Linked DNA regions of Homo sapiens: all the other regions are reported to be linked to region 4. Evidence: microRNA targets listed by miRTarBase, many of them from high-throughput screens and not tested one by one. Region 4 holds a microRNA gene; each other region holds the end of a gene's coding sequence.

The links. The annotated mature microRNA hsa-miR-4673 reads UCCAGGCAGGAGCCGGACUGGA and lies in region 4 at 3,788-3,809, shown strand. An mRNA with a match to its seed (bases 2 to 7 or 8) in the 3' UTR can be bound and repressed. Matches are read on the target gene's strand: a 7mer-m8 pairs with bases 2 to 8, a 7mer-A1 pairs with bases 2 to 7 and ends in A, and an 8mer does both.
Region 1: miRTarBase lists SPINDOC as a target of hsa-miR-4673. Seed matches in the 3' UTR shown: 7mer-m8 at 864-870.
Region 2: the mRNA of ANKMY1 is a reported target of hsa-miR-4673. The part of its 3' UTR that is shown has no 7-base or 8-base seed match.
Region 3: the mRNA of UBA6 is a reported target of hsa-miR-4673. The part of its 3' UTR that is shown has no 7-base or 8-base seed match.
Region 5: the mRNA of AHCY is a reported target of hsa-miR-4673. Seed matches in the 3' UTR shown: 7mer-A1 at 4,224-4,230 and 8mer at 3,753-3,760.
Region 6: miRTarBase lists TARBP2 as a target of hsa-miR-4673. Seed matches in the 3' UTR shown: 7mer-A1 at 4,357-4,363.

What each region holds. Positions count from the first base shown.
Region 1 is chr11:63,826,344-63,831,509 of GRCh38, forward strand. It overlaps SPINDOC (spindlin interactor and repressor of chromatin binding), which reads left to right. Exons shown (of 6, transcript NM_138471.3): 6 at 585-1,373. The coding sequence ends at 796. Among named protein-coding and RNA genes, the nearest start is that of MARK2, 10 kb to the right of the region's middle. RefSeq lists a silencer at 4,978-5,166.
Region 2 is chr2:240,475,365-240,480,505 of GRCh38, reverse strand. It overlaps ANKMY1 (ankyrin repeat and MYND domain containing 1), which reads left to right. Exons shown (of 18, transcript NM_001282771.3): 18 at 851-1,084. The coding sequence ends at 897. Among named protein-coding and RNA genes, the nearest start is that of GPC1-AS1, 21 kb to the right of the region's middle. RefSeq lists enhancers at 781-1,290, 1,291-1,800, 1,801-2,310.
Region 3 is chr4:67,614,790-67,619,955 of GRCh38, reverse strand. It overlaps UBA6 (ubiquitin like modifier activating enzyme 6), which reads left to right. Exons shown (of 33, transcript NM_018227.6): 33 at 824-5,166. The coding sequence ends at 959. Among named protein-coding and RNA genes, the nearest start is that of STAP1, 59 kb to the right of the region's middle.
Region 4 is chr9:136,518,262-136,523,412 of GRCh38, reverse strand. It overlaps MIR4673 (microRNA 4673), which reads left to right and starts at 3,787; the gene lies at 3,787-3,845. NOTCH1 (notch receptor 1) reads left to right here. Exons shown (of 34, transcript NM_017617.5): 4 at 225-563; 5 at 3,848-3,970; 6 at 4,589-4,822; 7 at 5,121-5,151. It overlaps LOC124902310 (a long non-coding RNA gene), which reads right to left. Exons shown (of 3, transcript XR_007061865.1): 2 at 1-95.
Region 5 is chr20:34,276,517-34,281,682 of GRCh38, forward strand. It overlaps AHCY (adenosylhomocysteinase), which reads right to left. Exons shown (of 10, transcript NM_000687.4): 10 at 3,752-4,649. The coding sequence ends at 4,518. Among named protein-coding and RNA genes, the nearest start is that of AHCY, 24 kb to the right of the region's middle.
Region 6 is chr12:53,505,594-53,510,759 of GRCh38, reverse strand. It overlaps TARBP2 (TARBP2 subunit of RISC loading complex), which reads right to left. Exons shown (of 9, transcript NM_134323.2): 8 at 4,910-5,111; 9 at 4,329-4,769. The coding sequence ends at 4,612. It overlaps ATF7-NPFF (ATF7-NPFF readthrough), which reads left to right. Exons shown (of 15, transcript NR_159377.1): 13 at 2,733-2,926; 14 at 3,618-3,739; 15 at 3,867-4,072. NPFF (neuropeptide FF-amide peptide precursor) reads left to right here and starts at 3,276. Exons shown (of 3, transcript NM_003717.4): 1 at 3,276-3,387; 2 at 3,618-3,739; 3 at 3,867-4,072. The coding sequence starts at 3,286. The coding sequence ends at 3,984. It also overlaps a transcript of ATF7 not described here. RefSeq lists a silencer at 1,491-1,723 and an enhancer at 1,861-2,155.

The DNA.
Region 1 (5,166 bases), not on the chromosome of region 4:
TTGCCCATTATGAGTGCCTTCTCCATACTGGTAAGGTGGACACCTGGTCTTGGTGATGTAGGTGTTGACACTCAGGAGATAAAGAGCCTGGTGGAAGTTCGCCAGGGGTCTTTTCTGTCCCCCACGTAGTCCCTCATGAGCTCCTTGGTGGGCACAGCTATGCCTTAGACTGCTTCTGGGTGTTCCCACCCCATCACCTCTGCCCCACTCAGGCAGAACCCGTTAGGCTAGGATGCCCAGTAAGTTTGAGATAAAATGGAGTTGGCTGCAGGTAGGAGTTACAGGAAGAGGCACGAGCACCAGGCGTCCCTGTGCCAAAATACACACAGGAGGAAGGCTGCCTGGCTTCAGCTGGCTTGTCCCTAGGGAGGCTGTGCGCCTCATTTTCTAGCTGGCAGCAGTCCTCGATCACCCAGGAGTGGAGCTCCCTGCCATCCTTGGGCTTCCCCTCATGCCAGGCACTGGGCTGTGGACATAATGAAAGCCCTGGAAATGTGGGTACAGTTTGCGGAGCTTCCAGGGGGCATCCTCGTGGTGGGGTGTCTGGGGGGCTCTGACTGCTCTCTGCTCTCATCCCTGCCCAGCTCCCCCTCCGGGGCTCCGCGGGACACTGGATCTCCAGGTTATCCGCGTGCGGATGGAGGAGCCCCCAGCGGTCAGCCTCCTGCAAGACTGGTCCAGGCACCCCCAGGGCACCAAGCGTGTGGGAGCAGGTGACACCTCAGACTGGCCCACAGTTCTGTCAGAATCCAGCACCACTGTGGCAGGGAAGCCGGAAAAAGGGAATGGAGTGTAAATTCTTGCTTTCCTGGGGAGGGAGGGAGGGATGAGGCAGCGTCCCCCAGTGGCTTATAACTCAGAGCTGCCTGGCTCACCCACCTGGTGGAGAGAGTAGAAACAGGTGCCAGGGCAGGAGGGGGCTGGGGCAGCATCCACTGTTATTTCGGGGCACTGGAAAGTGTCTGTTCCTGGCCAGGCCTGAGGTCGGCGAGGGTGGCTGAGGCTGTTGTGCAGTAGGGCACTGGGCCTGTGGAGAACACCTACCCCAGTCCTTCGCTGACCCCCACCTCTGTTTGTCCCCCATGACCTCCTCCCACCCTCCCCCTGCTCCCCACCATTCTCCCTTGGCACAGTGCCTTACACAAGAGTGGTCATAAGGGGGTTTGAACTGAGTCCCACTACCTCGGGGGACACCTCTCCTCCCCACTTGTTCAGGCTTCTAAACCAGGAGGCCTCCATTACCTCTTCCTGTCCCACCCCTGCAGAGGCCTGAAGCTGGGCCTGGGCACCCCATTCACTCCCGTTCTCATTTACATCTGTTTTCCTGTTGTATATATCACCTTTGTTGACAATAAATTATTTTTTTTTATTAAGAGTTCCGTCTGGGCCATCATTGGGGGAGAGGGTTTGCTAGCAGGATACCTGGCCACCTAGAGCAACCCTGAGGGGCAGGAGGGTTGGAAGATGGTCCTGGGGGGAGCCAGGGAGCCACCTCTCCTGAAGGTGGGACAGCACCAGGGCAGGCCTCTGTGGAGCCCAGGAACGAGGGCTGACTTGTGCTATCAGTCACCTGTGGGCGTCTCACCCCCTCCCTTCCTCTCTGCTCTGGAAAGGGGGTCAGAAACAATTTTCTTTAACATTGTACCTTCTGGCTCACCTGGTAGGCCTCTGCCCAAAAGAGGTCACTGTAGAAGCCCAGGGGTGCTCACAACCAGGGAGCTGGGAATTAGCCTGAGCTTGCTTGCTTGCTTGCTTGCTTTTTCTTTTCTTCTTTTTTTTTTTTTTTTTTTTTTTTTGAGACAGAGTTTCATTCTTGCTGCCCAGGCTGGAGTGCAGTGGCGCGATCTCGGCTCACTGCAACCTCCACCTCCTGGGTTCAAGTGATTCTCCTGCCTCAGCCTCCCTAGTAGCTGGGATTACAGGCACCCACCACCATGCCCATGCCCAGCTAATTTTTTGTATTTTTAGTAGAGACAGAGTTTCACTATGATGGTCAGGCTGGCCTCGAACTCCTGACCTCGGGCGACCCACCTGCCTCAGCCTCCCAAAGTGCTGGGATTACAGGCGTGAGCCACCACGCCCGGCTTATCCTGAGCTTTCTAAAGTGAAATGGCGGTAACCAGCTTGCAGGTAGAAAGATGCCTCTCCTCCCTTTCCGTATGATGGTGAGGGGCACAGGGGTCCTAAACTCAGCCCCGCCTTTTCCAGCCCTACAGGCCTGCACCCTCAGCTGTCCACCTTCATCCCCCCCAACCCTTGGCTTAATTAAACCCAAACACTTGCTGGTTTCCCCTATTCCCTGGATCATGAGGAGGCCACTTTTGGTCTCTTCACCGGATTCCTTACCTTCCTAAACTAAACCAACAGGGGCCAGATCTGTGCGTGGTTTTCCCTTTGGTGAGATGGAGCACACAGGCAGCCCCTTCTCAAACCCCAGCTGTACTGTCCTGTTTAGAGCCCATGGCAGGTGTGGTAAGCAGGACTGTATACCTCTGCACATGCTGACAAATGTGCACATAGGAGAAGTGGGGGCACAGGTGGGACTTGGAGGGCAGCTATTCCTGTAGGACGCTGACATTGGCACATTTTTTTTTTTTTTTTTGAGTTGGAGTCTTGCTCTGTCACCCAGGCTGCGATCTTGGCTCACTGCAACCTCTGCTTCCCAGGTTCAAGCGATTCTCCTGCCTCAGCCTCCCGAGTAGCTGGGATTACAGGCGTGCACCACCATGCCTGGCTAATTTTTGTATTTTTTGGTAGAGATGGGGTTTTCGTCATGTTGGCCAGGCTGGTCTCAAACTCCTGACCTCAGGTGATCCACCCACCTCGACCTCGCAAAGTGCTGGGATTACAGGCGTGAGCCACTGTGCCCGGCCAACACTGCCAGATTTTGAGACTAACCAGGAAGTTCATCTCGGGCAGGCAGGGTCTGGGCCTGGGCAGCGTGTGCTGTGTGCTCACCTGATGGGGTGTCACCATGTGCCAAGCCAGGTATGAGGGATCTCACGACTTGGTGGGCTCCTGGGACATGATCCCTTCTCCCCATCTGATAAGCTCAGGAGGAGCCTAGAAATATACAGGGTCTTTGTCTAGGGGACATTAAAAGACAGGTGTGGTGGACAGAAGGCAGTGGCCAAGGCTTCAGGATGCCTTGTATCTAGTGTGGCTCCCCCACTGCATGATGGCAGGCAGGCAGGCCGGCCACGGAACTCCCATGTCTCAAACACCATTATCCACAGATTGGCAAAACTTGTATCCTACCTGATAGGAGGGAATAAATAATGCTAAAAATCTGGTTCTGCAAGCACAAATACTGCAAATGGTTTTCTCTCATCCTTTCAATCCTGTGACTTGTGTTTACATTTATGCCAATGTGCTTTTAAAACAACATGGCTGTGTTGCTGGGTGTTTACACTTGAGAAAACGTATGTAAAAGTTTGTTGTAAAATTGTGAAGCCAAATGCCCCTTTGCTGTTCTATGATTAATGGCTTGGCCTTCTAGACTGTGAGCTCCTGGGCAGGGACCAGGTTGTATTGACTTTGTTTTCCAAGTGTCCTGCCTGGGGCCTGGCACATAGTAGGTGCTCAATAAATGTTTCTCGAGTGCCCTCTGAGTGTGTATTCCTGTGTGACATTTTTCTAGTGCATGTTGGTCCCTGGAGTGTGGTTCTCAGCACAGGGTGGTTGCTACAGTGACTGTGCAGGGTGGGAACTTCATCCCCACATTGTGGCCAATAGGGGTCTCCCCAGCCTCAGCCAGGGCCCTGGGGACTATGTGAGTGTGTGTGGCCAGCAGCTGTGTGTGGCACCTCTGGGCTTCCAGGAAAGAGTTGGAGAAAGTGGGGCTGAGGATATGACTCCAGCCCAGGCTGGAAGGACCTTACTGACGGATTGCCCAGGGCTTTCCTACTCCACACCGGCTTGGAGTCCGTGACGCTGGTCCTGCATCCTGGTGCAACACCAGGGAAGCTCTGCACGAATGTCGGTGACTCTCAGGGCTGGTGGTGGCACCTTCATCCATGTGGTGCTGTGGCCCAACCATGTGTTTGGTTGAAGAAGTTGGGGAAGAGGGTGCCGCTGCCCCTGACTGCTGAGCCACACACCCATTTCCTGACTTCCCAGACCTCCTTGGCTCTCTGAAGCCAGCCACCTCCTGCCCTCCCAGCTGCCTTCCATGGGATCCAGGTGTGGGAGATCTTTTTGGATACCTAACAAGGAAAAACTTTCTACATTCCCAGTACTTCTGACACCAATGTTAGTGGGGAGGGGGGCGCCCACATCAATTCTCCGACTCTCCAGACACCAGCCAGCTGTTCTAAAATTCAGTTCTGACACTCACTACCCAGAGTTAGCACGGTCCCTGCAGGTGAAGGGCTCAGTCCCAGCAGACTGCCCCTGCTTCAGATACCAGTTCTAGGTCCCAGCTTGTCACCTGTACTTCTGACCAGCCCAAATTTGGAAGTTCCCACAACCCCCTCCTCAGTTTTGATAATTTGCTGTAATGGCTCACAAAAATCACAGAAACAGGCCGGGCGCGGTGACTTACGCCTGTAATCCCAGCACTGTGGGAGGCCGAGGCGGGTGGATCAACTGAGATCAGGAGTTCGAGACCAGCCTGGCCAACATGGCAAAACCCCGTCTCTACTGAAAATACAACAATTAGCTGGGCGTGGTTGCGGGTACCTGTAATCCCAGCTACTCTAGAAGCTGAGGCAGGAGAATCACTTCAAGTCAGGAGGTGGAAGTTGCAGTGAGCAGAGATCACGCCATTGCCCTCCAACCTGGGTGACAGAATGAGACCCTGTCAAAAAAAAAAAAAAATTAGGGAAACATTTACTTACATTTACTTGTTTATAAAGGATGTTACATAGGATATAAACAAACAGGTGATGAGGTACTGAGGGCGAGGTTCAGAAGGGTTCCAAGCACAGGAGCTTCTGTCCTAGTGGAGTTGGAGTGAGCCACCCTCCTGGCATGTGGATGGGGTGCTGTCCCTGACCTGGAACCTCCCAAACCCCATTATTTAGGGTTTTTATAGAGGCTTCATTAGGCACGATTGATTAAATCATTGGCCACTGGTGATTGGCTCAATCTCCAGCCCCTCTTCCCTCCCCAAGGTCTTGGGTAGGGATGAAAGTTGCAATCCCCTAATCACGTGGTTGGTTTCTC
Region 2 (5,141 bases), not on the chromosome of region 4:
TGCCGTCTCAGATGTCTGTCTTAGTGTGGACGTCAACAGGTGTCTGCTTCTAGAAACACTCTGGTCTCCCGCAAGCCCCTCCTCACCTCCTTGGTGTGAACAGGGCCCGGTGCCGCAAGGGTGGCGGGCATTGCCGAGGCTGGTGTGCGAAGCTGTGCAGTGGTGACCGCTCTACTGGGACCTGGCTGGGTTCCCGGCCTGGTGGGGACGGGAGTGGGTCTGGGAAAGCCCCTGCCCCCTTAGGCCTGTGCCCTGAAGTGAATGGCTGCTGACCTCCTTCCCCCTCCATAAAATGGGGCTTTTTGTTTTCTTTTGAGACGAAGTCTTGCTCTGTCGCCAAGTCTGGAGTGCAGTGGCATGATCTTGGCTCACTGCAACCTCCGCCTCCCCGGTTCCAGTGATTCTCCTGCCTCAGCCTCCCGAGTAGCTGGGATTACAGGCTAATTTTTTGTATTTTTAGTAGAGACGTGGTTTCACCGTGTTAGCCAGGATGGTCTCGATCTCCTGATCTGGTGATCCACCCACCTCGGCCTCCCAAAGTGCTGGGATTACAGGCATGAGCCACCGCGCGCAGCCAATGGGGCTTTTAATAACAGGCGCCCTCGGTGAGGTCGCAGCTCCTTGGCTTGTAGACTCCAGGATGGGACTTGGTGGGTGTGGCAGGCCCCTCTTTGAAGAGTCACGGCAGATAGCCCTCAGTCCTTGCTGCATCCCGACTCCTTGCCTGCAAAAGCTCTAGACAGAGCACAGTCCTCAGCCGCCCCACACAGCCCGAGTTCTGGAGCCAGGCCTCGGGGGAGGCCAGCTCCAGCCCCCTCTTCCCCCTCCCCCACACCTTTTCCTCCTCCAGTGACACAACTGGAGCAAGTTTCCAGGAGGAGAGAAGAATTCCAGTGAAGCAGCAGCTGCACGTCCGAGGCTTGGGGAGGACCCAGGACTGTGTGGGTTTCTTACCTGCCTGAGCCACCTCAGGGAATCTTCCAGCCTAATGCAGGCATTTCTGCACCTTTGGGGTCATGCTTTGTAGCAGTGTCTCCCTTGCGACCTCGCAATAAATTGGCCCCACGGGGTGATTTTGACAGTCTGTGCTGTGCTCTGCCCCTAGCTGGGCAAAGTCCCAGAGCTTTTGTGGAGCCCGTGCCTGCCTCTGCCCCTGGCTTTGATCTTGCTTGGCCTCCCATGGGGCATGGCCTGGGCCATCCTGATGGACGAGGCAGGTGAGGGTCAGGACTCGGAGCCTGCTGCAGAGATGGCGGTGGGGGCAGCTCCTGGGTCTCTGGAGCTTGTTCTGGGACCTTGCCAGGAGCCCGCGGCAGCAGGCTCCACTCCCTGCTCAGGTGCCCATGGGTGCAAGGCTCCTACTGGGGTTTGCGGTGCTCGTTTGTTCCCCGTGCACTTACGGAGTGTCTGCTGTGTGCTGAGTGTTCTGGGGACGATGGTGTTTGTGGAAATCACTGGGAATGAGAGGAAGGAGGGCCTGGAGCACATGACAGGGAGCAGTGTTGCCTTCGAGGGTGGCCTGCGTGGAAATTCACGGAGAGGGCAGGGGAAGATGCGCAGTGAGGGGCGGACCTGGAGAAGGACGACAGCATCCCCGGAGACAAGGGGACAGCGTCCAGGGATGAGGACGATGGGGGTTTGCTGCTGAGGGCAGAATAGCTGGGAGTGTGGGGGGTGGGAGCCTGTGTCGGGGCTGGAGCCAAGCAGGTGAGACCCCGCTCCAGGCTGGCTTGTGGCTGTCAAAGCAGCTGCACCTGCAGTGATTTTTTTTTTTTACTGACTTTCCTGGTCTCGCCAAAGATGGGCTCCATGCTGGGGGTTTGTTGGGGGTGCCCTGGGAAAGGCTTCTGTAAGGGGTCAGCAGTGAGCCTGGGCAGAGGGACAAGCTGACCGCTGGGTGGCTCTTCATAGGGGCTCCCAACGGACGCAGGGACCAGGCCTTTGTACCCCTGCATCGGCTGGTCACCAGCCACAGGCTGCCCCTGGGAGGGTCGTAACTGTGTGAGCTGGCTCCCTGCCGCCAAGAGCTGTTCCTGCTCAGGGGGGTCTGGGATGCTGGGTGGGTGTAGGCACCCCCGGCTTCCACTACCTCTGCTAGAAAGGAAAAAGCTGCTAATGGATACTTATTTGATGGTACACTTAATTCTATAAAAGTTAGAGAATATCTACAAAGCAAAAGAAAGAACCTGTAAGTGACAATTATCCGCACTGTATTAGTCCATTCTCGCACTGCTACACGTACATATCAGAGACCGGAAAATGTATAAAGAAAGGAGGTTTAATTGGCTCAGGGTTCTGCAGGCTGCACAGGAAACATGGCGGCATGTGCTCAGCTTCAATCATGGCGGAAGGAGAAGGGGAAGCCGGCACTTCGCATGGCTGGAGCGGGAGGAAGGGGAGGGGCTGCCACACACTTTTCAAAACAGCCAGATCTCGTGAGAATTCTATGACCACGAGAACTGCACCAGATGGGGAAGTCTGCCCCCGGGATCCAATCACCTCCCACATTGGGGATTACAATTTAACATGAGATTTGGGCAGAGACATAGATCCAAAGCGTATCACAGACACCTGGATATTACCATGGCCAACGCTTTGTGTGTGTCCTTCTGATCTCTACAGGCATGAGTGCACACAGACAGACGTGTATCTAAAAGTGGGAGCATCCTCTCTGTTCTGAACTAGGCCATGAACATCTATGTTATTAAATATTTTTCTGCAACATAATTTCCCCAAATGAATATAGCTTTATTTTTTATTATATATGCAATATACGCTTATTTAAGAAAGAAGACAGCAAAGACAAGAGTGATAAAAATAACTGGGGGAGGTGGCATATACCTGTGATCCCAGTGACTTGGGAGGCCGAGGCAGGCGGATTGCTTGAGCCCCGGAGTTCCAGACCAGCCTGGGCAACATAGACCCTGTCTCTAAAAAAAAGATCTTAGTCAGGTGTGGTCGCACACACCGTAGTCCCAGCTACTCAGGAGGCTGTGGTGGGAGGATTGCTTGAACTAGGAGTGTGAGGCTACAGTGAGCTGTGATGGCACCACTGTGCTCTGGCCTGGATGAGAGAAAGATGCTAACAACTAATTTTTAAAAATGAGAAAATCATCTTAATCTTAAAATTCAGGGATAAGCATTCTGAGCATTTTGGGGAACATATTCTTTATTTTTATTATTTTTTTTGAGACAGAGTTTCTCTCTTGTTACCCAGGCTGGAGTGCAATGGCAGGGTCTTGGCTCACTGCAACCTCTGCCTCCTGGGTTCAAGCGATTCTCCTGCCTCAGCCTCCTAAGTAGCTGGGATCATAGGCATGCGCCACCACGCCCAGCTAATTTTGTATTTTTAGTAGAGATGGGGTTTCTCCACGTTGGGCAGGCTGGTCTCAAACTCCTGACCTCGTGATCCACCCACCTCAGCCTCCCAAAGTGCTGGGATTACAGGCGTGAGCCACTGCGCCCGGCCTCCACTGGTCCCTTTTCATTGGAGATGTTTGCTCTTCCTGATGGATGGGAACTCTCTAAAGCACAGCAACTTCTCCTATGCCTTGTGTGCAAATAACTGTCTTGCAGTTTGCAGTTTGCACGTGGAAGTTTTTCTCGTGTTGTGAAATCCACGTGTCCTTTCCTCAGGGCCTGGCTTGCTGGAGTGCGTAGAGAGCAGTCCCTTGCTGGGCTTATGTATGCAAGGGTAGCCTTTGCCCAGATTCTCACCACCGTTTTAATGAATTACTGCTTAACCTGTAATTGTATAACCAATCTAGCATTAATTTTTGTGTAAGGTTTGAGAGCCAGCTATCTAGATCTATCCCCAAACAATGGGCGTGATCGAGTAATCCATTTCTTTTCCCTGGTGGGCATATGCCTGCCTCTTAGTTGCCGTAGGGGCCCCTTCTGTGCTCTGCTGTCTCCACCTGCAGCTCTGTGGCCTTTTCACATCTGCCAGGACAGGCCCACCCTCCTCTTCACCGGCCCTGTGAAAGGCCCTGCGGTGACCATGTGCTTTTTCTTCCAGATGAATTGTGCAGTGTGTGTCAAGTTCTAAAATGTCTCGTTGGGACTTAGCAATTATCTTGTTTCATTTGATTGGCAGACAGTTGGCATCTTTTGAGCAGAGTTTTCTGGCTTGTGAGATGATACTGTGGTCACTTGGTATATGGTGTAAGATAAGGGTATATGGTGTAAGATAAGGGTCCAATTTCTCTCTTCTGCATGTACATATCCGACTTTCCAAGCGCCATTTGCTAAAGAGGCTCCTTTTGCTATTGTATATTCTTGGTCCCCTTGTCAAAGATTAGTTGGCTGCATATGTGTGAGTTTATTTCTGGACTCTATATTCTGTTTCATTGTATCTGTTTTTATGACTGTATCATATTGTTTTGATTACTACAGCTTTGTAATATACTTTAAAACAGGATGTGTGATATATCCAGATTTGTTGTTCTTTTGCAAGATTGCTTTAGCTGTTTAGAGTATTTTGTGATTCCACACAAATTTTAAGATTGTTTTTGCTATTTCTGTAAAAAAAAATGCCATTGGAATTTTGATAGACATTGCATTGAGTTTGTAAACTGCTTTGGGTAGTATGGACATTTTAACAGTATTCTTCCAATCCATGAACATAAAATGTCTTCCATTTGTTTGTACCTTAATTTCTCTCATCAATATTTTATAGTTTGCAGTATATATTCTATATTTTATAGTATTTATATATTTATGGTATTCAGTATATATTCTAAAAGTTCCACCAAAAAACCTGTTAGACGTAATAATGAATTCATTAAAGTTGCAAGATACAATATCAGCATACAAAAATTAGTTGTGTTTTTATGCACTAACAATGAACTATCTGAAAAAGAAATTAAGAAAACAATGCCATTTACAATAGCATAAAAATAATAAAATAATTAGCAATAAATTTAAGTGAGGATCCTTTACCTCCCTTAAATTTATTGCTAAGTATTTTATTTAAGTATTTAAGCAAGGTTCTTTTACCTCGCTTAAATTTATTGCTAAGTATTTTATTTAAGTATTTAAGCAAGGATCTTTTACCTTGCTTAAATTTATTGCTAAGTATTTTGTTATTTTTATGCTATTGTAAATGGGATTGTTTTCTTAATTTCCTTTTCAGATAGTTC
Region 3 (5,166 bases), not on the chromosome of region 4:
TTATATTTTAAGAGAATTCTAGGAGCAGTGTAGATTGGAAGTAGAAAAGAGACTAGAGAAAGCTAGCTAGAAGCCAATACAATGATGTAAGGGGTGTGTAGATGATGACTTCATTTAAGGCAGTAGTGGCTATAGCAAAGAGTGATTTTTCAGTAAATAGGATAAAGATTGGACATAAGGGAAAAAGCTAAGAATGTCTTTTACTTTGTATTTCTAGCTTACATTTTAAGGTTTAAATTCTAGCTTGCTTTTTTACTGTTTACAGAGAAATGCTTGAATTTATGATGCCTCCAAACTTAAGAGGAAGTTTAGGAGGAAAATCAATTTTTTAAAATCGTTGCAACCTCTGTCTCCCAGGTTCAAGCAATTCTCTTGCCTCAGCCTCCCGAGTAGCTGGGATTACGGGCATGTGCCACTGTTCCCGTCTCGTTTTTGTATTTTTAGCAGAGATGGGGTTTCGCCATGTGGGCCAGGCTGGTCTCAAACTCCTGACCTGAGGTGATCTGCCTGCCTCAGCCTCCCAAAGTGCTGGGATTACAGGCGTGAGCCACCACGCTGAGCCTTTTTTTGTCTTTTAATAAATGGTTTGTATTCTTTATCATGACCAGTGTGTCCAAATTTATTCACTGTTAGGTAAATGAGTGTCTTGAGTATAAATGAGTTCAGACCTTTTAGTAAAGAAAAATGAATATGTGAAAGCAGATTATTATTAGATGTTAAAGTCTAGATACAAGTCCAGGTTCTCTGGATGGCATTAGTCAGCAAATCATTTTTTCATTTTATAGAATTTACCAAAGTATTCATTCTTGCTTATTTTTCTTAGAATGCATAAACTTGTAAAACCTACTACTGAAAAGAAATATGTGGATCTTACTGTGTCATTTGCTCCAGACATTGATGGAGATGAAGATTTGCCGGGACCTCCAGTAAGATACTACTTCAGTCATGACACTGATTAATACAAGTTGTCTTAACGTTACTCCAGGACCACTTGATTTTGGAAAGAGTGCACTTAATTCAGAAGCTAAAGAAAATCAGTTCATAATACTATGGATTTCTCTTTCATTAAGCCTTAATTTTAAGGGAAACATCAGTAAGAAACTGCACTGAAGAATTATAAAACATTTTGGGGCATAGCATACACTTGTCTAACGGTTCACACGTGGCTATGATCACAAGCAACTTTGAACTGGAATGCTATTTACAAAAGTTTTGTGTATTAATCTGTGTATTAATCTCTCTGGATAAAAAGAAGGAAAAAATATGTATGACCAGAACAGATATGGATGAAGAAATTGAAAGCAACGAATGCAACTATTCAAAAAGTTTAATTTTATGAATTTCTTTTTTGTTTAGTCTTGAAGACTGATTTTCTATGCAAATAGTGTTTGGCATCCTGCACCTCTGATATGATTTGGCTTTGAGAATTTAATACCACTGGGAAGAAGTATGGTAGTGGTGGATGAAGGGTGGATATTTTAAATTGTGCAGTTACAGTTTACTGTCCTATTACCTCTGCTCGTTTAACCAGTTTGTTATATCACTGTGTCCCCAAAATCAGGATTTTTGTTGATAGCATCAGTGTTGTAGGAGCAATAGGTCAGATGAGACATATTAACTTAGACTAAACGTGAACAGTATTATATGGACTCTCACAACGCTCTTAGAGAATCCGTGAATGTGAACAGACAAATGTGGCTAACCATTTGATTCTTCAGTATGCCTTCTAATGTGGCTATTTTATTTATGTGAGACTCTAAACCTGATTGTCCTAATATATAAAACTAAAAGATTTTGTAAAGGGAGTGTCTTTAGAAATAGATGAAATGTAGAATGTTAAAAATTATTGCTAGGGTAGTCTTTTTTTTTTCCAGAAACCTAATTAGGGTATTAAATTTTGTGTTTTTTTTGTTTTTTTTTTTTAAACAGAAGCATGTTATTTCATTCCCATTCCCAGAAAGGGAGTTAATGAAGATAAAAATTTATTTTTTAAGGTCTTTATTGAGAGAAACTTTGTTTTCTGATATGAACTATTGCAGATGTTTTTATAAATACTTTCATTAAAATGATGTAAACAGTAGTACCCAACACTGTAAACTCAGTGAAAATAGTAAATGATTCTTTTATTACTAAGACTGTCATGCATTCTGAAGCAGTTGGCTTTTTTTTAACCATAGGAAGTAATTTCCCTCTAGCTCCTTTCCTTCTACTCTCCTGCTCAGACCATTAGTAGGTACTTTGTTAAATAAAAAACTAGATTAACATCAATATTACTCCAATTTGGTATCTTTTACACTATGTATTATACCTACTTTCTTTTTATTTCATTTACAAATAGTTTAAATTACTTTATCAACCAGCTGTATTGTTTCCCTCTTGTAAAAGTACCATCAAGTGGGGAAAATGTATGTGGAAGTGGAGAGTGAATTTGTATGACTAAAGGATAATCTGTACATGGGGAAGTGGGCAAAAGTGGATAGGATGAATTTAAAGAAAATGACTACCTTTGGAAAAAAGAAATTAAATTTTGTTCACATATCCTACCCTTTCCCATTGTGCATATCCCAAGTGTCATATTTAAAACTAAGGTTACTTAAAACAGAATCCAGGAATATCAAGGCTCTGTGGCTTGGAATTTTAGAGGATAGGACTAATAAAAGGACTTTTGCAAAGAAGGCTTTTTTCCACGTTCACTTTGTTTTGTGTTCTTTGAAAGTAACTGATACTTTTCGGGTAGTTAATTCAGCAGTCCATAAATATGATCCAGTAACTTGCTTATATTTTATTGAAGTCTCGACAGCTCTTCAGAAGTAAATTTAGAACGATGCTGTCAGTTCATATTTATAGATATTAGTGTTTTAGCAGATAAAACAAAATCAACAAAAATTAAGTTCATTTTGTGATTAAACCTGCAACCATTTTTCCATTACTTTTTTTCTATAGTTAATGGTTATTGCCATGATTTCTTCTGTTTGGTTCTACTAAGCTAGAAAGCCAGGGTGAAGTTAATGATAATTCCCATTATTTTATTTCTGTACCATGAGATTGCTGTTGATGACTGAAATACCAGGTGCAAAAATTAATGATTTGATTTTTGTACAGTTTCAATGAGTATTTTTTACTTATTAAAAATAAATTAAGAAATGTAAGAATATCTTTGTAAATCATGTTTCATAAGTTGACTCCAGAGATTCTGATTTTGCTGTTTATTTTGTGAGTAATGTTGCTTTGGTGTTTCCTGATTTTCAAGTTTGCAATCATGGAGATACAGCAGTTATTAGGTGTGGAAGGACATTACCTCAAATGTCCTCAGATGGCTCCAGGAAATTCTTTTAAAACAGTTGGAGAGAAATAGTCGTGACCATGTAAAACCTAGAGGATCTGGTAAATCCCATACTACTGGTTAGGGATTTGTAAAGTCCATTTCTTTTTAGAGTTCAAAGCAGTTCTGTTACTTGTCCATAAGTTCCTCATAAATTGTCCCAAAGGTAGGACATGGAAATAAATGTATATCTTTATTTTTTAATCTACTATGTCACACTCTGGTGATATTCATGGAACATTAAAAAAGCAACTATGTTTATTTTATAATTAGTAAAATGAAGATAGAAAATTGTTCTTTTGAAATTTTTAGGGAAAAAAAAAATCTCGTGACCTAAATCTTTCCACTATAATGAATATTCATTGTGATTGCAAATATCTAATTTTATATAATCACTGTGTATGGATTTAGCGATTTTACTTTTCATAGATTCAAAAACATATAATCTGAATGCTTTCTCTGAAAAAAAAAAAATCAGAGTTGAGCTCTTGAGGATCAGAGTTAAGTATCCATTGATAATATGTGTTCATTTTGCTCTATGTCATAACTTTGTTTTTTTATTGAGAAATATATATTTTTCAAAAACACATATATATTCAAAAATACATAAAATATAAATATGCAGTTCAAGGAATAATTTTAAAGCAACTATATAACTAGCACTCAGCTTAGTAGAATATATTGACAGCAGTTCAGAAATTACACATGTAGTTCCTTCCCAGTCACAACCAGCTCCCTGCCACGTACCCTTTGGTAATTACCACTATCCTACCTTGTATGATAATTGTCTCTTTGTTTTTATAGTGTTACCACCTATGTGTGTAAACTTAAACAATACAGTTTGCTTGTTTTTGAGTTTTATTTAAAATCATACATTCTTTTGTAGCTGCATTTGTTCAAGATGGGATTGATTCATGTTGGTTGTAGCTGTACTTTATTCTTCATTATGTCTGTGTAATTTACTTTTCTGTTAATATGCCACAATTTATTTACTGTAGACAATTGGGATGTTTTTAGTTTCAGGCAATTACAGTTTCACAATGAACATCATTTTATGTAACTCCTAGTACAAAGAGTATATATTTAGGAGTAGAATTTTTTGGTCATAGGGTATTCATATCTTAAATTTTATTAGATGATTACAAATTTTTTTCTAAGCATTAGTATGTTGGTTGGTTTTGTGTTGCTATAAAGGAATATCCAAGACTCGGTAATTCATAAAGAAAAAAGGTTTATTTGGCTCATGGTTCAGCAGGTTGTACAAACATTGCACCAGCATCCCTGCAATCATGGCAGAAGGCAAAGGAGGAACTGGCGTATCACATGGCTAGAGGAGCAAGAGAGAAATAGAGGAAGTCCCAGATCATTTTTAAGAATCAGATCTCACATTAACTCATGGAGCAAGAACTCGTCATCTCAACGAGGGCACCAAGCCATTTATGAGGGATCCAGATATCCATCCCCATAACCCGAACACCTCCCACCAGCCCTCACCTCCAACACTGGGGATCACATTTCAACATGATATTTGCAGGGGACAAATATCCAAACCATATTTCTCCATATCTTGGTCAGTGCTGGTGTTAACAGTTTTTGTTTTTAATTTTGCCAATCTGGTGGATGTGCAATTGTATCTCATTGAAGTGTCACTCTGCATTTCTCTATTACCTGTGAAGTTGAGTATTTTTTCATAAGTTTATTGGCCAATTTGACTTTCTGTTTTTGTAAAGTATCTTGTCAGGACTGCCACACGTTTTTGTTGTGTTGCTAATCTTTTTCCTCATTGATTCATAAAGGATCTTTATAAATCTTATTCTTTGTTGGCTGTATAGTTGCCAATATCT
Region 4 (5,151 bases):
GGAGGTGTCAGCTCTGGGAAGAGACGGCCCAGGCTCAGGCCTCTTGGGAGCTGTGGTCCTTCATCTGCCAAAGGCGACCGGTCTCACGGCAGGTCCTGAGGATCAAATGTGATAGCACCTAAGGTGGAGCCCAGGCTGGCACCTCCAGGTGGCCTGAAGGGAGGGAAGGCCCGGCCTCGGGGAGCAGTGAGGCCAGCACGACCCTCTTGTCCCCTTGTCTCCAGGGAAATCGTGCCAGCAGGCTGACCCGTGCGCCTCCAACCCCTGCGCCAACGGTGGCCAGTGCCTGCCCTTCGAGGCCTCCTACATCTGCCACTGCCCACCCAGCTTCCATGGCCCCACCTGCCGGCAGGATGTCAACGAGTGTGGCCAGAAGCCCGGGCTTTGCCGCCACGGAGGCACCTGCCACAACGAGGTCGGCTCCTACCGCTGCGTCTGCCGCGCCACCCACACTGGCCCCAACTGCGAGCGGCCCTACGTGCCCTGCAGCCCCTCGCCCTGCCAGAACGGGGGCACCTGCCGCCCCACGGGCGACGTCACCCACGAGTGTGCCTGCCTGCCAGGTAGTGCTGCCCGCTGGCCGGGGTGCACGAGCCCCTCCCCGGCTGCCAGGCCCAGGGGGTGGGAACGGGGCGCCTGGTGTAGGGGCAGCCCTGGGAGGGCCCATGGCGGGGAGTTGGGAAGGCGGGATGGCGAGTTCCCCAGACTGCGTGTGGTGTCGGGGGGACGCGTCTGGAGCGGGGTGTGCGCTGGGAGGAGGCTTGCACAGGGTCCAGGTGCCAGCCCGTGTCTCTGGAGTTTCCCGGAACTCACATTCGAGCTGTAGGACGCCCTGCCTCCCCCCAGTGCAGGCACCCTGACTTGCGCAACCCCCAGGGTTTCCCCTGCAGTGGGGCTGGGGCCGGAGAGGGCGTGGGAGCTGCGGGGGCACCATCACTTCCCAAGCCATGGCCCTTCCTGCCATCCTGCTGGTCTCCTGCGGGTGTGGGTGACAGGTAGGCGCAGCCGCCTGCCCGTGTCCCCAGTGCTCCCCGATCCCCGTGTTGTACGTAGGAGCCTCTCTGCTGTAGTTCTTGTTTGAGTAAATTTTGCAGCAGCTCTAAAAATAAGGAAGAGTTTTGAAAACCTCCAGTCTCGGCCGCGCGTGGTGGCTCACGCCTGTACTCCCAGCACTTTGGGAGGCCGAGGTGGGCAGATCACAAGGTCAGGAGATGGAGACCATCCTGGCTAACACGGCGAAACCCCGTCTCTACTAAAAATACAAAAAATTAGCCAGGCATGGTGGCACGCGCCTGTAGTCCCAGCTACTCAGGAGGCTGAGGGAGGAGAATCACTTGAACCCGGGAGGCGGAGGTTGCAGTGAGCCGAGATCCCGCCACTGCACTCCAGCCTGGGCGACAGAGCGAGACTCCGTCTCAAAAAAAAAAAAAAAAAAGTGAAGAGAAAAAAGAAAACCTCCAATCTCAGCTGCACAGAATGGCTGTTAGGTGGGAATGGGGAGAGGGCATTCAGGCAGGGGTGGGGCTGGAGGGTGCACAGGGTCCTGGCTGACCCACGGGTGGCCCAAGGGCTGCCCCACCCCCTTGGAAGCCCCAAGCTGGCCTGGCCCCTGCAAAGGGGAAGCTCCCTGGCTGCCCAGTCAGCTGAGCCCAGCCACCTCTGCGTGCAGACACCAGACGTGTGCGTTTCCTGCAAGTCACTGGGCGAGCGTGGGGTGGGGACAGACACTCCCTGGCCAGCTTGGATCTCTGCAGGGTGGGGCGCAGAGCCCTTCTGCTGGTGGGGGCTCAGATGCCTTCCTAGCAGCACGGGACCCTACCTCCAGTCACACGGATTGAGGGGCCAAGCTCTTGGGGGGCCGTGGTTCAGGCTAGGGCAGGTGGGGTGTGTGCGGCCTTGTCCAAGGCCACCTGTGTGCAGAGCTGATGCCCACCCGCCTTGGGCAGGGTGGGTGAGGACCTCCTGGTGAGGCCCAGCGGCAGAGATGCCAGGGGTGCTGGGCCGGCTCAGAGCCACTGCCCGTGCAGGGGCAGCTCAGGGCCCTGGGGAGTGGGCAGGGAGGGAAGGGGAGGGGCTGGTGGGGTTCACTCACTTGAGTGTGGGTAGATCTCAGAGGCTGGGGTGCTGGGGGCTGGGTCACCCGTCCGGTGAGGGGTGTGCTCACTGCCTGCTGTGGAGTCTGGCCGTTTCAGGGTGAGATGACCATCCGGGGGCCTCCCCAAATGACTCAGGCCTGCCAGACCCCAGCTTCAGACTGTCCCCGGCGGCCCCTGCACCCAGGCCCCCTGAAGGGCCCTCAGCCACCTCTGGGTGGTCAGGAGCCCAGGAGACAGCTGTGTGTGGAGTCACGGGGAACCGAGATGGGGGCGGCCCTGAGCTCTGCAGGCCCGGGAACTGGCTGGGATTTGGGGTCGCACAGCCTGCCTGGCACGTCAGCACTGTCTCCTCGTGGGGTCGCTGGCCGAGGCTACGTCGCAGAGGGTCCAGCTGGGGTCCACGGGGCTCTCGCTGGCTTCCCGCCCTCTCCCCCACTGTGTGCCTCAGCCAGTGCTTTGCAGGGCAGCCCTGGGGTCGCAGGCCCAGCCAGGGGCCCCATCTGCCTCGGAGCCGGGGTGCAGGGCCCCACACATGAGTGGGACCGGGACTCAGGCTCCAGGCTCTGAATTTTTTTTTTTTTTTTGAGACAGGTCTCTGTCACTCAGGCTGGAGTACAGTGACGTGCCCTCAGCTCACTGCAGCCTTGACCTCCCAGGCTAAAGCGATCCTTCTGCCTCAGCCCCTCAAGTAGCTTGGGACCACAGGCCGGCGCCACCACGCTTTGCTACTTCTTGTATTTTTTTTTGTAGAGACGGGGTTTCGCCATGTTGTCCAGGCTGGTCTTGAACTCCTGGGCGCAAGCGATCCACCCACTTCAGCCTCCCAAAGTGCCGGGATTCCAGGCGTGAGCCACCGCGCCAGGGCTGGGGTCTGGTTTTGGGTGCTCCCCAAGCTGATTTGCATTTTGGATTTTGGTTGTCTCTGGCTGCCTGCTTTTGCTCCGGTCCAGCAGACAGACAGAACGGACGGGGTGGTGGCGGTGGGGCAATGTCTCAGAGGGAGGGGCCGAGCAGGTGGGAGCTCCAAGGGCAACGGGGGTTCAAAGGCATCTCGGGAGGGCGGCAATTAGTAACCGGCTGCAGGTTTGGCTGTTGCCGAACGCGCCTTTCTGGGTTGATCATTGAACCAGCGGGAGTTGAGTGGATTAATAGCTAACTGGCTGCCTTGGAGGCCTGGGTGGGGCCATACCTCGGGGGAGGGGGCCCTGGCAGCCTGTGGAGGAGGAGGGGGAGGAGGAGGTGGGCACCAGAGCTCTGCCCCAGGGAGGATGGGCCATCTGAATCTCTGCAGCTTCCCTGGGGCTGCGAGGGGCCCACCCTGCCCCAGCCAGCAGCCTGCTGGCCCCATGTCCCCCTGCTGCTCAGAGCCCAGGCCCCAGTGTCAGCCCCTGAAGATGGGGTGTGCGGCCCCCCTGTGGAGACATTGTAGGGAGCTCTGAGCATGCAGGCGGCACCCAGGTGCAGGAGCTGCCGGAACCTCTTAAAAGAGACCCAAGGGTTTTTGTGACAGAATCTTCTGGAACCCTGTGTTCCTGAGTCCCTGTTTAGCCAGTCCTGTCCAAAATGATTCTTTCAAGCAGGGCGTGTCCCTCTGGGCACTGGAGTGAGGCAGGGGACGGGCACAGACCCCGGGGGCCCCAGGGCAGGGCCGTGGAGGCCAGGCTCTTGTGTCCAGAGCAGTGTGTCGGGGGTCCAGGCAGGAGCCGGACTGGACCTCAGGGAAGAGGCTGACCCGGCCCCTCTTGCGGCAGGCTTCACCGGCCAGAACTGTGAGGAAAATATCGACGATTGTCCAGGAAACAACTGCAAGAACGGGGGTGCCTGTGTGGACGGCGTGAACACCTACAACTGCCGCTGCCCGCCAGAGTGGACAGGCGCGTATACGGGTCGCCGCAGGGCGGGGTAGCCGGGGCGGGGCTGCTACCCACTTACTAAACTGCACTCACAGGCATAGCGGGGAGCAGCCGAGACCCTGTCCCAGGCCAGGCAGACTAGGGTTGGCCGAGAAGGACAACATGATGGGGGCCCCACTTCCCGTGGCCAGGGTCTGGTGCCCCTCACCTCGGGGGTCAGCACAGACAGGGCCCTGGTTGGTCTGTGTGGGCCGTTTGCAACCTGGCTCCAGGCAGCCCCTGTGCCCAGTGGGGTGTCCTGGCATTGAGGGCCTTCAGCACCCCACTCAGGCCACGCTTCCTGGGCCAGTCACAGGGATGCCTGGATGAACAGACAGGCCCTGTGTTCGGGAATTACCCTCTGGTGGGGTGACGGGCAAAGGTGCACCCCGACGCAGCAGTGTCCACAGAGCACAAAGAGGAGGCAAGACTCCATGGTGCTGGGCCTGCAGAGGAAGGAGTGATTTAGGCTGGCGGTGGGTGGAGGAGTCAGCCCAGGAAGGCTTCCTGGAGGGGGCGGCATTGCCACCCTGCGTCTTAGGGGACAGGGAGCTCAGGGAGTGGCAGCTGCCCGGGGCCGACAGCTCCTGTTCCCTGCAGGTCAGTACTGTACCGAGGATGTGGACGAGTGCCAGCTGATGCCAAATGCCTGCCAGAACGGCGGGACCTGCCACAACACCCACGGTGGCTACAACTGCGTGTGTGTCAACGGCTGGACTGGTGAGGACTGCAGCGAGAACATTGATGACTGTGCCAGCGCCGCCTGCTTCCACGGCGCCACCTGCCATGACCGTGTGGCCTCCTTCTACTGCGAGTGTCCCCATGGCCGCACAGGTGAGTGCCTTGAGGCCCAGGTGGGCGCAGGGGGCTCACATGGGCCAGGCCTGAGCTGTGTGACCTCACCCAGGGACTGTGGCCCTCCTGCACCCAGGATAACCTGAAAGGGCCTTTCTGGTCAGGGAGGCCGGTGGTCGCTGTGAGTCCCCCGGAACGTCCCAAGTGTCACGGGATGCCCGACGGGGTCACGGCGGGCAGCTCCTCCTGGGGTGTCAGTGGGGTTGGACCCCAGCCGTGGGTGGTGTGCCATGCCTGGCCCAGGGGCCGTGCCCACTGACCGCCGCTGCCTGCCCAGGTCTGCTGTGCCACCTCAACGACGCATGCAT
Region 5 (5,166 bases), not on the chromosome of region 4:
CAGACTATTACGATGCTAAGCAGTGTGAATTTAGGTTCCAATAACTTATGGAAGTTGTCAGGAAAAGCCCACCACCCAGCACCCGGGGGTCTTTAGAACCCTTGCAAGGTTGTAACTCCTCCCACCAGGGAGAAGCAGCCTCTAGTCCTGGGGGAGTCTGAGTCCAAGCAGCCCACAGAGTGAATCCTGGAGTCGCTCCTGCACCACACCAGATTTCTAGCAAAAGTCCTAAAGTCCCGGGATTGAGTCCAGACCAACTTGAGCCACATGCCTGTCTTGGAGCCAGTTTGGAGAAGCAACCAACCTGGAACTGATCGAAGCCCGCCCGGACCACTGCACACCCCTGGCTGCCTCTACCACCTCAAGCAGGTTTCCTAGCTCGGTCCCCTGGGCTAGTCCTGAGTAGGTCTCAGGGATGAGAATCCGGATTCCTGGGGTTTCCTGGAACCTCAGACTCCCAAAGCAGGGCTGTCCCAACAGCAGCTTCCTGGAGTCCTCACTGGCATCAACAGTCCCCGTGATCCGGCTTCCTGGAGTCCTCACTGGCATCAACAGTCCCTGTGGATCCTTCCTGGGTTTTAGTCCATGCTACTTCCAGACCCTCTAAGCTCATTATTTCTGGACTGAAAAGGGATCCCAGCACCTCTAGCCTAGGAGGCCCCTCCCACCACAGCCAGTCACACAGAGGTGGGCATGGGGCTTGGTGTGCAGAAAGAGCCCTGACATGGACTCGGGTGGGACACCCAGACCTGCAGAGTGACCCGGATAAGTCACAACTTCTCTGGGCCTCCGTTTCTCCACATACAAATGCTGGGTTCTGCTCCACAGGACTCTAAGGTTCTCCCTTAGTTCCAAGATCCTATGACTTCTCTAATTTTCTAATTTCCTAAGTATCCTAAATTCCCTGCTCTCAAAACAGCTCCCTCCCACCACCTGGTGTCTCATACAGCCCTTAAAACTCAGCATAAAGGCCGGGCACAGTGGCTCATGCCTGTAATCCCAGCACTTTGGGAGGCCAAAGCAGGCAGATCACGAGGTCAGGAGATCGAAACCACGGTGAAACCCCATCTCTACTAAAAATATAAAAAATTAGCCGGACACGGTGGCGGGCGCCTGTAGTCCCAGCTACTCGGGAGGCTGAGGCAGGAGAATGGCGTGAACCTGGGAGGCGGAGCTTGCAGTGAGCCGAGATCGCGCCACTGCACTCCAGCCTGGGCGACAGAGCAAGACTCCATCTCAAAAAAAAAAAAAAAAAAAAAAAAACTCAGCATAAAAACTCCTCACTAATGTTCTATCATTCGAGCGTCAAGACAGCCATCTGAAGTAGGTATTTCTGTCCCTGCGGGGAACACAGTGAGTCAGCAGCAGACCCAGGGCTCCTCTTTCCAAAGTTCAGTCCACTGCTCCATAAACAGCCACTTTCCACCAACCACAGGCCTCATCTTCCCATCTCTTTCCTGGAAAAAATCCAACCAGGGCTAGGCCTGGATACTGCAGGACCCTTGGCCAATTCCTTCTTTCTCCATGAAGCTTTGATGGGGGCAGCCCAGATATCAGGAGTGGAGTATTGGGGTATTGGGGGTGGAGCAGGAGACACATCATCTTTCATTGTGGGTACCCGGTCAGTGTCACACATGTGACAGATTAGCAGACCTGAAATCAGAGGTAAGTCTGAGACCAGATGTGAAAAGAGGGGCTGTGTTTTCTGAAACAAAAGGTTCTGGGAACTGACAGGACACCTCCGAACAGGAAAGGAAGAGGCTGGCATAACAGAAACCAGAACTCCTGGAAGAAGGGAGGTGGGGGGCTACATGGGATCTGGCAGGAGGAAGCATTCTGACAGCATTTCCCACATCCAGGAGGAGACACGCTAGAGGGAAGGGAGCATGCGCACACACAGGCAGCGGCTGTGCAGCAGAAGGCGTTCAACCTCTCTGGCTTAGAAGAACAGCAGCCTCTCCTTTTTTCTACTGTGAAGTTATCGTCCCAGCAGCCACCCCAGTAGAAGAACTGAGGCAGGGCTCTGGGTAGCCCTCTGGTTTACAGTTCCAGAGTTCCTGATCTAATGTTGGGAAATCTGAATCCAGGCTCCCTTCCTAAACCTGACCTTGCTGGTGTGGAAGGGGCTTGGATTTTGGTCTAAGTCCTACCACATACAAAAGTCAGCTCATGCTTATGGCTCCTCTCAGAGCCTCAGACAGGGGAATTCAAGTCTCTATGAGGAATAAATAAGACCATACCTTTTTACATATGATGTAAAGATACATCATATCTTTAGAACTTAATGTGAGTCCCCACTTAGTGCACTAAGGCCAGGCATGGTGGCTCATGCCTGTAATCCCAGCACTTTGGGAAGCTGAGGTGGGCAGATCACCTGAGGTTAGGAGTTCAAGACCAGCCTGGCCAACATGGTGAAACCCTGTCTCTACTACAAATACAAAAATTAGCCAGGTGTGGTGATGAGCATCTGTAATCCCAGCTACTTGGGAGGCTGAGGCAGGAGAATTGCTTGAACTCAGGAGGCAGAGGTTGCAGTGAGCTGAGATTGTGCCACTGCACTCTAGCCTGGGCGACGAGAGTGAGACTCCGTCTCAAAAAAAAAAAAAAAAAAAAAAAGGCCAGGCACGGTGGCTCACGCTTCTAATCCCAGCACTTTGGGTGGCCGAGGCGGGTGGATCACGAGGTCAGGAGATCGAGACCATCCTGGCTAACATGGTGAAACCCCATCTCTACTAAAAAAAAATACAAAAAAAAATTTGCCGGGCGTGGTGGCGGGTGCCTGTAGTCCCAGCTACTCGGGAGGCTGAGGCAGAAGAATGGCATGAACCTGGGAGGTGGAGCTTGCAGTGAGCTGAGATAGCACCACTGCACTCTGCTGCCTGGGCAACAGAGCGAGACTGTCTAGAAAAAAAAAAAAAACAACAACTCTAAAAGATGCTTGCACCATGCCTGTCACCCAAGTGTGCAAGATCTCAGCCTGTTTTGACCACTTGTGTTGTGGTCAGTTGGGAGTGGGTGCCCTGTCATTTGGTACTAATAATAGTTGAAGTACCAAAGTCTGTACACTATTTACAGCAGAGTCACATCACATACACACGTAACTTATGCAACTTAAACTATGTGCACTCAGGGAAAAAGAAAAGGTAAGAATTAATTGTCAGGCAGGACACACTGATGAGCATCTAAGCCAGAGTGAGCAGTTTTCAGCCCCTCATGCCTCACTGATCATGGGCCATTGAGTGTGACTTAAGGGTTTTACTTGACATTGTATCTTTAGAACTTAATGTGAGTCCCCACTTAGTGCACTTTTAAAAATACTGCAAACAGCCGGGCACAGTGGCTCACGCCTATAATCCCAGGCAGATCACTTGAGGTCAGGAGTTCAAGATCAGCCTGGCTAACATGGTAAAACCCCGTCTCTACTAAAAATACCAAAAAAAAATTAGCTGGGTGTGATCTCAACTACTCAGGAGGCTGAGGCAGGAGGATCGCTTGAACCCAGGAGGCGAAGGTTGCATTGAGCTGAGATTGCATCACTGCACTCCAGCCTGGGTGACGGAGCGAGACTCTGTCTCAAAAAAAAACGAAAGAGTTCCCTCTTCACTTTACCCATTCTTTCAAGCCTAAGGACCACAGACAGCCGTTCCACTGCAGAGTACCCCGTGAATGCTTCATCAGCACGACTATAACCCCCTATTCATGGCATACATTGTTGGCAGAGGATTATCTATAAAATAAAGGCTCAAAATTCTTCCAGGCACCAAGATTTTTATTTACCCACCTTCCTGCTTTCTTTTAACATTATAGGCCAAATTATTCTCTTTTTGACCCAGGGTTGTGAAAGGAACCATCTGGTTATAAAGTGGTGGCAGATTTCACGAAATCTGCCTGCATTCATGTTTTTCTGGCCCCTCTCAACCCCTAGCTGTCACTTCTCTGTTCTTTCTCAGTTGCCCCTTAACAGTCTATTCTAACCCCTGTAAAACAGGGACTAAAAGTACTAACCTCATTGTAATGAGGTTTAAGAGAAGGCCCAGCACTAAGCCAGGCTCTCAGGAAAATTCAAACAACAGTTCCTCTTTGCCCTTCAATATAGCCCCTTCTCATCTGTCATGGGCTGAAGAACCACTGGACCTGTAAACCAAGCACACAGGTATAAGTCCACAGACCAGGTGAAGGCCTAGATGGCAAAACACATGGGCTTTGTGACTCCACTACTGACTTCCAGGCTAAGGAAGGACTGACTTAGTGAGCTGTTCCAAGACCACTGAGCTCATGGTTCCCTGTGGCTGGGACCTCCATCATGACCGGGGCTTGAAGAGGGTACTCTGTTCCCGCTGCCACATTTGGAACAGTATGACGGCTGCAGCAGAGGCCAAAAACTAAGTGATCAGCCCCAGAGAGTCGATGGGGGACACTGACAAACCAATCACAAAGTTGGTGCCATTAGCTCTTAGGGAGGAGAGGTGGGGCCTGGGCAAGGACAGCAGCTGGAGGGTGAAACGCAGACCTGGCTCTCAGTAGCGGTAGTGATCCGGCTTGAAGGGGCCATCACAGGACATGCCCAGGTACTGGGCTTGCTTCTCAGTTAGCTTGGTCAACTTCACATTCAGCTTGCCCAGGTGGGCTTCAGCCACTGCCTCATCCAGCTGGGGAGAAACAAAGGAAGACCGGGAATCAGTGCCATTTTCTGGGACCCCTACACGCGTCTGGCTGCCAATAGAGGCAGAAGTGTTCTGTTAGGGTTTCTGCCATGTGTGGTACTCATGTTAACTCTTTCTATCCTCACACCCAGCCTCAGTTAATGTGTTGTTTTGGCTGCCCAGCCCCCCTCAAAAGGGAACCATGCCACACCCTCCCCTACATGTGGCTTGACAGGACCATCAATCACATCTCCTTCCTCATTCTTCAACTCAAGCAGCTAACCAAAATGCTTCTCTGGAATTGATCTATGCACAGGACATATTTTCCATGACAGGCAGAGACAAGGTGCTCCAACCCCACTGGGATTCCTAAACAGGGAAGGGTATCTATCAATCTCAGCTCACCAGTTCCAAGTCTATTTTACAAGTGAAATGAAGATAGATCCGAGAGACAGAAGGACAGAGCCATGATGACACGGAATCCTAGGTTTCCAGTGTTTGGATCCGAGAATAAAGTTCTTTT
Region 6 (5,166 bases), not on the chromosome of region 4:
GGAAGCCAGCTAAACCAGCCTCTTTCTGAATGCAGCTCAGCCCAGAGCCACTTGTAATTGATGTTTAGAGAAATACTAGAAGCAGCAGGATGGTAAACATGGAATGGCTGCCCTATGCTACGTGGAATGGTAGATTGCTTTACTGTTCACCTAGTGATAACAGGAGTAGTCACTTCATTTTATTGATGATAAATTGAGGTTTAGCCAAGTCACACAGTGAAGTGCAAGAGCTAGGATTACAACTGAGTTCTGTCTGGCCCAGAACCAGCTCTGCAGTGTCCCATCCACCCTCACACCGCTGCTCCTCTGGACCTCTGTCACACAGGAGCAGACAAGGATCATTCTGGGATGCAGCAGCTACTGCCCACAGAAAAGCCATCTCCCCGTGGCCTTGATACTCCCTTTTAAGAAGTGGTAAACTGGCCGGGTGCAATGGCTCATGCCTGTAATCCCAAAACTTTGGGAGTCCCAGGCGGGCGGATCACCTGAGGTCGGGAGTTCAAGACCAGCCTGACCAACATGGAGAAACCCCATCTCTACTAAAAATACAAAACTAGCCAGGCGCGGTGGTGCATGCCTGTAATCCCAGCTACTCGGGAGGTTGAGGCAGGAGAATCACTTGAACCTGGGAGGCAGATGTTGTGGTGAGCCGAGATCAAGCCATTGCACTCCAGCCTGGGCAACAAGAGCAAAACTCCGTCTCAAAAAAAAAAAAAAGATAAAACTACAAGATACCATGATGATGAATGTCAGGTTTTGTGGTTGGGACCAACCATGAGACAAAGCTTACGAAAAGGTTTACCCTGGCTTAGTCCGCATTAACAGAAATATGGTATCTGGAGCATCCAGATCCAAACCTGCTCTAATCTACGTGTCTAAAGGATAAGTTGGTTCCTAGATGCCTTGCCTTAAAGAGTGGGGTGCTTCCCCTTGAGCAAAAAAGACTATGGAGTGGGCCAGGTGCGGTGGCTCACGCCTGTAATCCCAACACTTTGGGATGCCAAGGTGGGTGGATTGCTTGAGGTCAGGAGTTCAAGACCAGCCTGGCCAACATGGTGAAACCCCATCTCTACTAAAAATACAAAAATTAGCCGGGCATAGTGGTGTGTGCCTGTAATCCCAGCTACTTGGGAGGCTGAGGCAGGAGAATCGCCTGAACCCGGGAGGCAGAGGGGTTGCGGTGAGCCGAGATCGCACCACTGCACTCCAGCCTGGGTGACAGAGCCAGACTCCATCGTAAAAAAAAAAAAAAAAAAGCTGGAGTGTAAGAATGAACTCTCTCTTCAAAAATATGAAGAGCTTTTACACATGAAAGAGATGAGATGTTCTGTTGAGACTTAATGGAGCAAACTAAGACCCCGAGTAGAAGTCACAGGAAGCCCAAAGCCCCCTCGGCACAAGGATAAATATGTCCGAAGACTGTCTGAGGAGATGGTAAGTTCCCCGACTGGGGCACATGAGGCAATCACAGCTAACGTTTTGAGGATACCTGTTCTATGCAAGCTGTTTTATTGAATGGATTACAAAAAGTATGTTAAGTAATGCACACCCTAGGAAGGCGTTCCTTGTAAAATGGGCCCATGTTTCAGGTGAGGAAACTGAAGCTCAGAGCGGGAGACAGCTTGCTCAAGCAGAGGCCAAGGCCTTTACGTCATGGCTCTTCCTCAGCACAAGCTAGAGACCCACACTGGTGGGGATGCTCCAAAAGGGACTCGAGGATTAGAAGGAACCTGCACCATATGGCTTTGAAGGCCTCTCCCTGAGGATTAGTGATTCTGATTTTTCTTAAGACAGGATTCTAGGCTACTCTATATGAGAGCCAGGGCCAGGCAGAGGCTGTGGAGACCAGAGTCGGGGTCAGAATGATAGTCCAGCCCCACAGTAGCCTGCTCCTGTCCTTCTGGGACTCCCTGGAGACTGGACCCTAGCACCTCCACTCAGCCTCACCCTCCTCACTTCCTCTGCAGAGGTCTATTCTAGGAAAAGGAAATGGCCGGAGCTGGCAATGAGGAGCTGTGACCACAGGGTGGCAGCAGTGCTTCAGCTGTGGAGAGTGACTATAGGAAGGGCGATGAGGCAGGTCGGAAGCAGTGCTCTCTAGTGAGGATGGGGGTCTGTCTGCAAAGATTGGAAGCCACACTCATTCAGTGGGCTCCAAAATCCTGTAGCCTCCCTCTATATCTTAATAATTTTTTTTTTTTGAGACAGAGTTTCTCTTTTTGCCAAGGCTGGAGTGTAGTGGTGCCATCTCAGCTCACTGCAACCTCTGCCTCCCCGATTCAAGCGATTCTCCTGCCTCAGCCTCCTGAGTAGCTGGGATTACAGGTGCCTACCACCACGCCCAGCTAATTTTCGTATTTTTAGTAGACAGGGTTTCACCATGTTGGCCAGGCTGGTCTCGAACTCCTGCCCTCAGGTGATCCACCCGCCTTGGTCTCCCAAAGTGCTGGGGTTACAGGTGTGAGGCACTGCACCCGGCCAAAAAAAAAATGGTTTTTAATTAAAAAAAAAAAAGATACAGGCTGGGCATGGTGGTTGACGCCTGTAGTCCCAGCTACTTGGGAGGCTGAGGCAGGAGAATCACTTGAACCCAGGAGCCAGAGGTTGCAGTGAGCCGAGATCGCGCCACTGCACTCCAGCCTGGGCAAAAAGAGCGAAACTCCATCTCAAAAAGAAAAAAAGTTAAATTCTCTCCATCATCATGAAGTTGAATATATTTTTTCTATCCACAGGCAAATCTGAGTAGCCTCCAAGAGGCACACAAGCAGAGGATGGGCTGTGTTGCCCTGACTGCCAGCCCCAGGCACAGAGGACCAGGCCTGGTCATCCTCACAGACTCTGACCCTGGCTCTTCCCACTCCTCTTCCACTCCAGGACATCCTACTTAACCCCTCCTGACATGAGTTTCTTGTGCTTTAGTCTACAGGTTAGGAAAGAGGGGAAGTGATAAACAAGCTCTCCAACCTGTTGAGGGATTAGGGGTTCGTCTAAGGCTCCCCAGGGCCTGGCTCTGACAAAGCGTCTGCAACTAATGATGCTTCTTGAGCTCTGGAGACAGGATTTATGCATCTAATAAAGTCTGTAACTCCAGGCTTAGGGGCCGGGGGCAGGAGGCTGAGAGCATGAAGTCCTGGGGGCGCCATGGGAGGAGATCCCAGGTGGCTCCTAATGAGCCCTGCATTTCCATTTGCCTGCTCTAGATTCCCCTAAGGCTACTGTGAGGCTGGGGGTGGGGGAACAGCAGGTATAAGAGGTTGGGGTGGCTGTAGGAGGGTAGGTGGCAGCATGGATTCTAGGCAGGCTGCTGCACTGCTGGTGCTGCTGCTGTTAATAGACGGGGGCTGTGCTGAAGGGCCAGGAGGCCAGCAGGAAGACCAGCTCTCCGCGGTGAGTGTGTGTCCCATCCCCATATCACCATTGCCTCTACTTCGGTTGAGACTTGTGCTCTAGGTTCTGATACTTTCTCTGGCTGCCAAGGTTGTCATTAGGTCCTCACATCTGAGGAAATGGTTCCGCAGCCTCCTACCACTTGCCCCTGGAAGCCAGTCCCTTCCCCTTGTGACTTACGTGTCCAGGGTATTTGCCCATCTTCCTTCCCTGATACCCCCTTGGCACAGGAGGAAGACAGCGAACCCCTCCCACCACAGGATGCCCAGACCTCTGGGTCACTGTTGCACTACCTGCTCCAGGCAATGGAGAGACCTGGCCGGAGCCAAGCCTTCCTGTTTCAGCCCCAGAGGTGAGTCTGAAAGGGACACAAGCATGGCAGGGGCTGGGGGTGGAAAGGGCAGGAGGCAGAGGAAGAGGAGAAGGAAGGGGGCTAGAGAAGGGAGACTGCGGGGACCTGAGGACAAATCTTTCCTAAGGTTTGGCAGAAATACCCAGGGATCCTGGAGGAATGAATGGCTGAGTCCCCGGGCTGGAGAGGGGCTGAATTCCCAGTTCTGGAGCCTGGCTGCCCCTCAACGCTTTGGGAAGAAGTGACATGTCATCCCTTGATATGTCTGCATGCAAGGTCCACACCCAAAAGTGTCAATGTTTGCCCCCCAAATAAAATTGTCTGGCTTCTGAATCCATGTGTGTCTGTGTGAGACTTTACAGGGCTGGGTGGAAGCCCAAGGGCAAGAACCACTGCCCTTCCCCTCCACCAAACCCAGCCCTCCAGCAAGGCAGCCGACAACATTCCACGAGGCCACTGTGCCCAGCCTCCTCCCACCAGAAAGGAAAACAGGAGAATGGCTGGAACAGGAGCTCAGGGAAGGCACACAAAAGTAATGTGGTGACCTCCTCTGCTATCCACACTGCTCAAGGAAACAGAAGAGAAGGGCTTAAAAATCCACAAAGCAGCATATTTATTCCAGGCTCTAGTAGACAGCCCCCTGATTTCATTCCCATTCATCATCACCAATAAAATGAGGACGGATCCTGGGCTGGCTGAGGCTCTGTGGTCCTTGGCTCCTTGCCCTGTGCCTTCTCAGCTTCAAGGCAGGCAGTCTGTGTCAGAGGTAGAGATGGCACCCACAGAGGGTACCAGAGCTGCGCAGATACATGAGCCCAGAGGCAGAAAGAGCAGGGAGCAAAGGGTGCACATCCATGAGTCCAGCTGGGGCTTCACTTGCTGCCTGCCATGATCTTGAGGTACTGCAGGGCACGGCGGGCAGCCTCACCACGGGCTGCCTCCCTGGTGGTTGCAGAGCCATGACACACAGTGGCCGGCTGGGTGGACAGTTCCACCAGGCACTGGCAGAGTCCACTCAGGCTCAGCTCCTCTGGAGAGCAAGAGAGAGGAGGGAGGCAATGTTGGGGGAGGTAGCCCTGGGGAGGGGTGCGTTCACGTTATCATCACCCCCTTCTACTTGCTCCGGTCCAGCCCCCACCATCCCCTGGCTCGCTCCCCAGCTAGCCATACCAATATCCAGGTAGCTGACGTGAAAGGCCTGCTCCTCAGAGAGCTCACTGAGGACACGGCAGCAGGCAGGGCCCAGGGCACCCAGGGAGCCCAGGGAGCAACTGCGGAGGGACAGGATCTTCTCTCCTACTGAATTTCGTAGAGAATCCCAGGTGCAACCTGGGCCCCGGTTTCGAAGACCATCCAGGCGGGAGCCCACACCCTGTCAAGATGGGAACAGTGAGAAAGATGAAGCGAGAGACTGTGGGACCCAGGCA